Regions from separate parts of the Homo sapiens genome. Here all the other regions are linked to region 1. The links come from fine-mapping of genetic effects on gene expression. A gene starts in region 1. Each other region holds a variant in brackets. All regions are shown on one strand. Distances are from middle to middle. Region 1 holds the start of IL1B (interleukin 1 beta). Region 2 has its middle 13 kb from the start of NT5DC4. Region 3 has its middle 26 kb from the start of IL37.

The links. PIP is the estimated chance that this variant, and not a neighbour inherited with it, causes the effect.
Region 2: its variant is fine-mapped to the expression of IL1B in whole blood (TOPMed, PIP above 0.99).
Region 3: its variant is fine-mapped to the expression of IL1B in unexposed skin (GTEx, PIP 0.94).

The regions. Positions count from the first base shown.
Region 1 is chr2:112,835,688-112,838,449 of GRCh38, forward strand. IL1B (interleukin 1 beta) reads right to left here and starts at 1,092. Exons shown (of 7, transcript NM_000576.3): 1 at 1,021-1,092; 2 at 496-557. The coding sequence starts at 542.
Region 2 is chr2:112,706,994-112,709,755 of GRCh38, forward strand. No RefSeq gene overlaps it. Among named protein-coding and RNA genes, the nearest start is that of NT5DC4, 13 kb to the right of the region's middle. RefSeq lists an enhancer at 1,380-1,559. The variant G/A (reference allele first, on the strand shown) is at 1,410.
Region 3 is chr2:112,883,714-112,886,475 of GRCh38, forward strand. No RefSeq gene overlaps it. Among named protein-coding and RNA genes, the nearest start is that of IL37, 26 kb to the right of the region's middle. The variant G/T (reference allele first, on the strand shown) is at 1,242.

The sequences.
Region 1 (2,762 bases):
AGACTTGACTGTTCATAAGAAACTGCAAACAGCCTGCCTCTCAAAGCTGCCTGAAACACCTGGCAAGTTTCACAGTGATATGCGCAGAACAGTCCAGAAGGCAGATTCTAGGCCTGGCAGGTGGGCACCCTGGGTGCTCCCTGTTGGATCTTGAGGCCTAACCTCTAGCCCAGCAGAGTCAGCTAAAATCTGAGCTCTCCCTCTCCCTCCAAGCCACACTTTGCAAAGGGATTCCTTGTATTGTGGGCTTGGAGTCTTTTCTCCCCATTTGCCTCTGCAGGAAGCCCTTGCAACAACACATCTGGATAGCCTCCAGGTCCCAAGGCTGGAGGGACTTGTAATGGGAAAGTAGTCTTTAAATCAGATTTACTTGGCACCCTGTTTGCCACTGAAAGAGGCAATTTAGGGGAAAAATCTGGTCTCCAAGCACAGATAACACTCTACTCTTGAAAGAGGAGACCTGCTCATGTTACTGGTCTCAGCGTCTCCACTGACCTGTAATAAGCCATCATTTCACTGGCGAGCTCAGGTACTTCTGCCATGGCTGCTTCAGACACCTGTGTAAAAAGGAGAAAATGAGTGACTTCCCCATGACGGCTACGTTCATGTGTGATTTCTCTCAGCATCCAGTGCATGGCAGTCATGCAAAGAAATGATCTCTGAGTAAATGAATGAATGTGTGAAAGAGAAGTCCTTTGGGTCTAGAGAAAAGCATTTGCTAAACCAAACCCCAACTAGCAATGTATTGGCTAGGAGAGCTGGAGCAGAGGCTTTGACACTAACCTTTAGGGTGTCAGCTGTTAGATAAGCAGTATCCATTCCCAGAATATTTCCCGAGTCATAAGCATTATATTACACCTGGCATTTTTGCAAAAAGCTGAGAGAGGGAGGCAGAGAGGGAAGGAGAGGGAGAGACAGAGAAAGAAAGAGAGAGAGAGAGAGAATATGCATACACACAAAGAGGCAGAGAGACAGAGAGACTCCCTTAGCACCTAGTTGTAAGGAAGATTAAAGTCATACTTGAGCAATGAAGATTGGCTGAAGAGAATCCCAGAGCAGCCTGTTGTGCCTTGTGCCTCGAAGAGGTTTGGTATCTGCCAGTTTCTCCCTCGCTGTTTTTATGGCTTTCAAAAGCAGAAGTAGGAGGCTGAGAAATTTCTCTGTTGAATACCTGATTTCACAATCAAGTTAAAGGAAAGGGGAAAAGAGTATTGGTGGAAGCTTCTTAGGGGAGGGGACTAATAAACTGAGATAATTCTCTGGTTCATGGAAGGGCAAGGAGTAGCAAACTATGACACATTTTGCAAATGTATCACCATGCAAATATGCATTGTTTTCCTGACAATCGTTGTGCAGTTGATGTCCACATTAAAATACTGGATTTTCCCACGTTAGAAGAATGTTTAAATTTAGTATATGTGGGACAAAGTGGAAGACACACAGATTTATACATGCACATACTTTTCTTCATTCACTTCTTTGTACTTAAGTTTAGGAATCTTCCCACTTACAGATGGATAAATGGGTACAATGAAGGGCCAATAGCCCTCCCTGTCTGTATTGAGGGTGTGGGTCTCTACCTTGGGTGCTGTTCTCTGCCTCAGGAGCTCTCTGTCAATTGCAGGAGCCTCTGAGGAGAAAATTGACCTTTCTTGGCTGGGGCAGAGAACATACGGTATGCAGGGTTCAGGCTCCTGACGGAGTTGGGGCAACCCTGGAGATAAGCTCACACAACCCTGCAAGACCAGGTGCTGTTACCCTAGCCAATCTCATGGATGAACCAGATCAATGCCAGATGAGCTCTGCCTAAAATGATTTTTTGGTGAACTCTGAAAAGTGGAATATTGTTTCTGTAAGAATATCCATCTGAGACTCTATCTCTTGGTAATACCAACCAAGAGTTATCAGTTTCTCTTTAACCGAGACACCAGCAAAGTGCCTGCTCCAGGGTACTGCCCAGGGGAGCCCTCCATTTGTAGAATGAATGAGAGTCCAGGTTATGAACAGTGCCTGGAGTGTAGGAACACCCTCCTTTGCCTCTTTGACAGGTCTGCATCATAACACTTTTTTTTTTTTTTTGAGACAGAGTCTCACTCTGTCGCCCAGGCTGGAGTGCAGTGGCACGATCTCGGCCCCCTGCAAGTTCCGCCTCCCGGGTTCACACCATTCTCCTGCCTCAGCCTCCCCAGCAGCTGGGACTACAGGCACCTGCCGCCACGCCCGGCTAATTTTTTGTATTTTTAGTAGAGACAGGGTTTCACCATGTTAGCCAGGATGGTCTCGATCTCCTGACCTTGTGATCTGCCCGCCTCGGCCTCCCAAAGTGTTGGGATTACAGGCGTGAGCCACCGTGTCCAGCCTGTAACACTTCTTATAGCACTGAGTTGAAACCTTGCTCCTCCTGGTTCCTCCAGGAAACTGAAATCTTTTTGAGCCAAGTCTAGCACAGTGCCTGGCATGTACATTCAGGTGGTAGAGTTTGCTGCTTGAATGGGTGAATGGGAATTTGACAGCATTTTTATTCAAATTAGTATGTGCCAGGTATCGTGCTCGCTCTGCATTATCCAAGGGAGTGAGCCTCTGTGCAAGTATTTGAGACACGAGGGAAATAGGTTCTACTGTGGGAAAAAGAGCATTTCATGGACTTGCTCTCCAAGCAGCCTTCTGATTTTTAATTTGGCTCCCAGTATCTTGATATCAGGAGTCAGTCACAAGAACTCCATCTTTAGTAAGTTATATTTTCCACAGGAAATCTAAAAGCT
Region 2 (2,762 bases), 130 kb before region 1:
ACCAGCTTGGCCAACATGATGAAACCCCGTTTCTACTAAAAATACAAAAATTAGCTGTGCATGGTGGCGGGTGCCTGTAATTCCAGCTACTCGAGAGGCTGAGGCAGTAGAATCGCTTGAACCTGGGACGTGGAGGTTACAGTGAGCTGAGATTGCGTCACTGCACTGCAGCCTGGGCGACAGAGTGAGACTCTGTCTCACAAAAACAAACAAACAAACAAACAATAAATAAATGGTAGCCTGTCATACATATAATTTTACTTTTGCCTTTTAAAAATTTAACAGCATATACCTTCACTATTTTACATGGAGCTACTTATAAATATATGTTCATAAACACACACAACACACGTATATTTTATTTTTTTCCTTTTATTGGCACAAAAGTCAAACCTAGGTGATCCTTCTCATCAGCCATTGGAGAAGGCTTCTAGGGCATGGGATTTTCCAGTATGAGGTGGTATTCTGGGTGCCAGAGATTCCTGACGTCAGATTTAGTGACGATGAACACTAAGCATCGTTTCCAACTGCTCATAGCTGTGGCAGATTGTATCCTTGTTCCCAGTTCTCTTCTGTCCACTCTGTAACAGGATCTGTCTGTATCACCCCAGGCCGCGGGACCTGGAGCACCTTCCCATGGGAGGAGTGTATTCCCTTGCTTCCTTGGCTTTAGGCTTGGAAGAGGGTGGGAGTTGTACACGCCAAGTCCAAGTCAAAGCTCTAAAGACCATTGTGGACTTCTGCTTTGTGTCTTTGTCCGTGACCATGAGGTTGGAGATAGGAGCTGGGCTGTTCCTTCAGCTTGGGTCTCAGACTAAGAAGACATGGAATAAAGCCACAGTTGACCCACATCTTTGAATGATGTGTGTGAGAAATAAACCGTGCTTGCTGTAATCCCCTAAAATTCTGGAGTTGTTGGTTACAGCAGCCTAACCTGGTGAAAGGTGACTCCTGCTAGGAGACAGTGTTGGCTGTGCTCAGTCACAAAGCACCAGACGGCTCTGAGGATCTGGTTCCTTGCTCGCAGTGTCCTCTGTTTGATCTGGATCAGCTGTCCGTTGATAAAGAAGCTGAGCTGTAATCACAGCACTTTGGGAGACCAAGGCAGGTGGATCACCTGAGGCCAGGAGTTTGATACCAGCCTGACCAACATGGTGAAGCCCCACCTCTGCTAAAAATACAAAATTAGCCAGGCGTGGCAGTGCATGCCTGTAATCGCAGCTACTTGGGAGGCTGAGGCAGGAGAATTACTTGAACCTAGGAGGTGGGGGTTACAGTGAGCTGAGGTCGCACCATTCCACTCCAGCCTGGGCAATGAGAGCGAAACTCTGTCTCAAAAAAAAAAAAAAAAAAGGAACCTCAGGTTGTTTTTACAGGAACCAAGATGTCCCACACTTAGGGACTTTTCT[G/A]TACTTTCTATATGATGTGGAAGTGCCAATAGCTGGGGATTTTCAGGAAGTTATTTGGCAATGCAAAACAAGAGTTCTAAATAATTTTCACTTCTAGAAATCAGCTCAAGATAATAATTAAAAATACACAGGGAGGTTCATGGTAGAGTTATTTGAAAAATTGGAAGCCACCTAAATGCCCCATTACAGGGCAACAGTGTATACACTATTCTATGTGATGGACATTATGAAGCCATTAAAAATCAAGTTGCTGAATATTTAATGACATAAAGGAGATGTTGGTTTTTAATATTGAATGAAACAAACAGGACACAGAACTGCATATGTATAACAGTCCTAATTTGCAGAACAAATTTAGGATTGTGCCGTTTATAATTTTATATATTTTTTTCACTTACACTTGTGAATAAACATTTCCCCTCAGTCGTCAAATAAGTAAATATGTATAAAAAGAAGACCAGGAAGGAAATAAGCAAAAATAGCGGTTATTTCTAGTAGAGAGCATTTCCTTTCCTGTACTTTCTATATTTTCTAAACATTCTACGATGAATGTGTACTACTTTTATAATAAAAAAAAGTGGCTGCTACTTAAAAATGAGAATTATTCCGGTCACCTCTAGGGCTGTGCCTTTGTGCTGTGCTTACCCAGGGGCCTTAACTGGGGCTCCTCGTCTAAGAATAAGCCTGTGTGTTTAATTAGGTCACTCTCCTGCCGACCTAGAATCTCCGCACAGGGCTTAGCTTGTGCTGCCCAGAACCCCCCAGGAGCCGCCCTCCGAGGGAACTCTCAGCTTCTCACAGACAGGCACTGCTTCTGCCTGCTGAGTGTGAATTTGAGACTTCTGTGAACTGTCACTCCTACAGAGCTGCCACTCTCAGGTCTCTCCAACCTATCTTCTTTAAAAATCAATTCAGACGGCCGGGCGCAGTGGCTCCCGCCTATAATCCCAGCACTTTGGGAGGTCAAGGCGGGCGGATCACTTGAGGTACAGAGTTCGAGACCAGCCTGGCCAACATGGTGAAACCCCGTCTCTACTTAAAAATACAAAAATTATCTGGGTGTGGTGGTATGCACCTGTAATCTCAGCTACTCGGGAGGCTGAGGCAGGAGAATCGCTTGAACCCAGGAGGCAGAGGTGGCGGTGAGCCGAGATCGTGCCACTGCACTCCAGTCTGGGTGACAGAACGAGACTCTGACTCAAAAAAAAAAATCAATTCAGACATAACTTATTGAAGAGAAAATGAAGACGGGAACATTTTAACCATTTTGGATGATGATAATTCATTAATTCAATAATGAACAATAGCTGCGGTGCCAGGCAGCTACTGTTCATTGTTTCCTATGGCCTTCCC
Region 3 (2,762 bases), 48 kb after region 1:
TGAAAACCAATTTTATTCAGGACTATGGCGAGAGGTGAAGTAAGACCTCAGTATAGAACTGGGCTCAATTCCAAATGCAGCATGGGCAAATGGGAATGTATAGCCTAGGAGCAGGGTGGGAACCTGTGGATGAAGAATTACTAAAAGGGCATATCAGGGGTGAGGGGGCGTCCTGGCTACACCCACTAACTACTGTTGCTGAAGAAAGGCCTGGTGACATCACTGGGGAATGGTGGGGGATGAAGAATCCAATCAGATGGATATTGAGGATAAGGGGATCTTGATAAACTGGCTTAGGAGGGTTTTTGCTAAAACTGGTTTTCATAGGTAAGTCCACAGATAGGTCTTGGAGAAAGTTCAGGGACCTACGGTTTGTTCGGGCAGATGCTTTGTCATCTGTCACACTGGCACTGTCACCTGGCTTTCCTTTAGTCCCTCCCCCCCTTTTTTTTTTCTGGAGTAGTTTTGGGAGACCAGAGGAGCAGGGAGTTAGGGAGAGTAGTCAGAAAAGGCCAGAGAAAATAAGGAGGTGTCTGTAGGGAAAATCCTTAAATCCTCTAATTAAATTAATTTAATTTATTTATCTGGGACAAGGTCTCACTCTGTTGCCCAGGCTGAAGTGCAGTGGTGTGATCTCGGCTCACTGCAGCCTCGACCTCAGGGCTCAAGCAGTCTTGCCACCTCAGCCTCCTGAGTAGCTGGGGCTCACAGGTGTGCACTACCATGCCCGGCTAATTTTTGGGTTTTTTTTTTTTTTTTTTTTTTTTTTTGTAGAGATGAGGTTTCGCCATGTTGCCCAGGCTTGGTCTCGAACTCCTAAGTGATCCATCCACGTCGACCTCCCAAAGTGCTGAGATTACAGGCATGAGCCACTGTGCCCGGCCTAAATTCTCCAATTTTTAAATGCTTCCCTGTTCCCTGTTCCAGATTTGGGATATTGACTGCTGTTAAATCAGCGATTTCTCCCTGTGGAGAGGTAGCCAATAGGAAGCAACAAGAGTGAGGAGTCCTTATATCGAAATAGAGGGTAAGAGAAGAGACAGATGTTATCTTGGCAGTGATTTAAGAACAGCGAGTCTGTAAGCAAAGCAAAGCAAGGCTCCCAGGTGCTGAGAAACAATGGCTTTCTGGGGAAGCGTCTGTGTTCAGAACCTTAAGTTGGAAACATCTCTGAAGATGTTTGCCATGAAGGTTTTCTTCTGAAGTTGAGTCTTTCATCACTAGGTAGGCGTGTTTTGGAG[G/T]CTCTATCAAACAGATCCTGTGTTTATTAGGAAGCTGTGGTTCATAAAGCCCCATGCTAATTTTGCAGGTAGCAGGGTGGCCCTGGCCTGACCCGGGGACAGAGTGGCTGTCCTCCCTCCAGGCAGGAAACTCTCTCCTGCCACCTAGTGGCTGCATACCCACATTTCAAGGGAGCTTCTGGGTGGTGAGTTTACCAGACTATGGTCTGAGGTAGAGTTAAGCAAAACAAAACTAAACTGCATAAAGAAACAGAAAGAAAATCAGGTGTTATAAAAACAATTTGGCATTTGTTTGTGTTTCAGCTCCGTGTCGATTTATTGCTTCCACAAATAGTGCCGATATGCACCAGGCACTGTTGTAAAACTGAAAATATGTTTTTGGATGTGCCCAGTCTGTGAGTATTAAACGATGGTTGATTTGAAATTTGCTATGATTCATATTTCTGGGGGTAAGATGCAGGATTTCTTTGGGGGGCCTAGGATGTGGCATTCCAGAATTCTCAAAGAATCAACCCTGGTGGGACCAGGAAGAGCTGAGCTGAGGCCTCTCTGCTCATGTGTACTTACTGGAGATCATGGAGACAGGTGAGCCTGAGTGCACGTCTCACCAAAGCCACAGCAGAGGGGGAGGAGGCGGAAAGAGAGCTCTCTCCATTTCTGAGAAGTTAATGGTAACAATGGCATACATACCTACTTTACAGTTGAAATTGGAAACCACAGCATTAAGTGTTTCCAATGAAATTTGGCAATTTGGGAGTTTTCTGAGCTGCATTGGATGTGGTTTTGCATGCTGTTAGGATGAGCAAGAGATGATGGAGAACATCTTCCTTTTGAGCTTCCTCTTGGACGTGGGTCACTCCCACTCATGGAATTAGAAAGCTTAGACCTAGACTTGAATCTCACCTTCTCAAGGTGCTCCCGGGCAAATCACTTAAGATCCATCTTCTTCTCCTCCTGCTCCTTCTCCTCCTTCTGAGTTTTTTTTTTTCTTTCCAAAATTCAAATGACACGGTACTGGTAGAAGAAAAGGTCCAAGTCTGCTTTTACAGCTCCCCTCATCCCCAAATGTACTCCGACCCCAAGATGACCATGTTATTATTTGATTGGCATCCTTCTAGTTTCAACTCATTTCTTTGCATGTATATGCACGTACATATACACTATTTTATTTTGCCAGGGGTCACGGTTAGCTGCATTAATTTCTTTTAAAATAATCTTTATTTAGTTATAGTTTACATTTAACAACATACTCATTTAAGTGTATAGCTTGATAAGTCTTCACTGTAAACCAAAAATAAAATTCTAAGCCCCCCCAACCATCTGAATGGACCCCTCTTCTTGGCCAAGAGCATTCCAAAGTTAACCTGAAAAAACTAGTTCAGGTCATGATGGAAGGGAAGGTTGGACATGCCCCAGTATACCCTTCTCCCTTTTGGAATTCAGGAAAAGCTGACCAGCATTAACATCAACACAGACCTTATGTCTGATAGGAAACTTTGACAATCTATTCCCTCTGAAGCT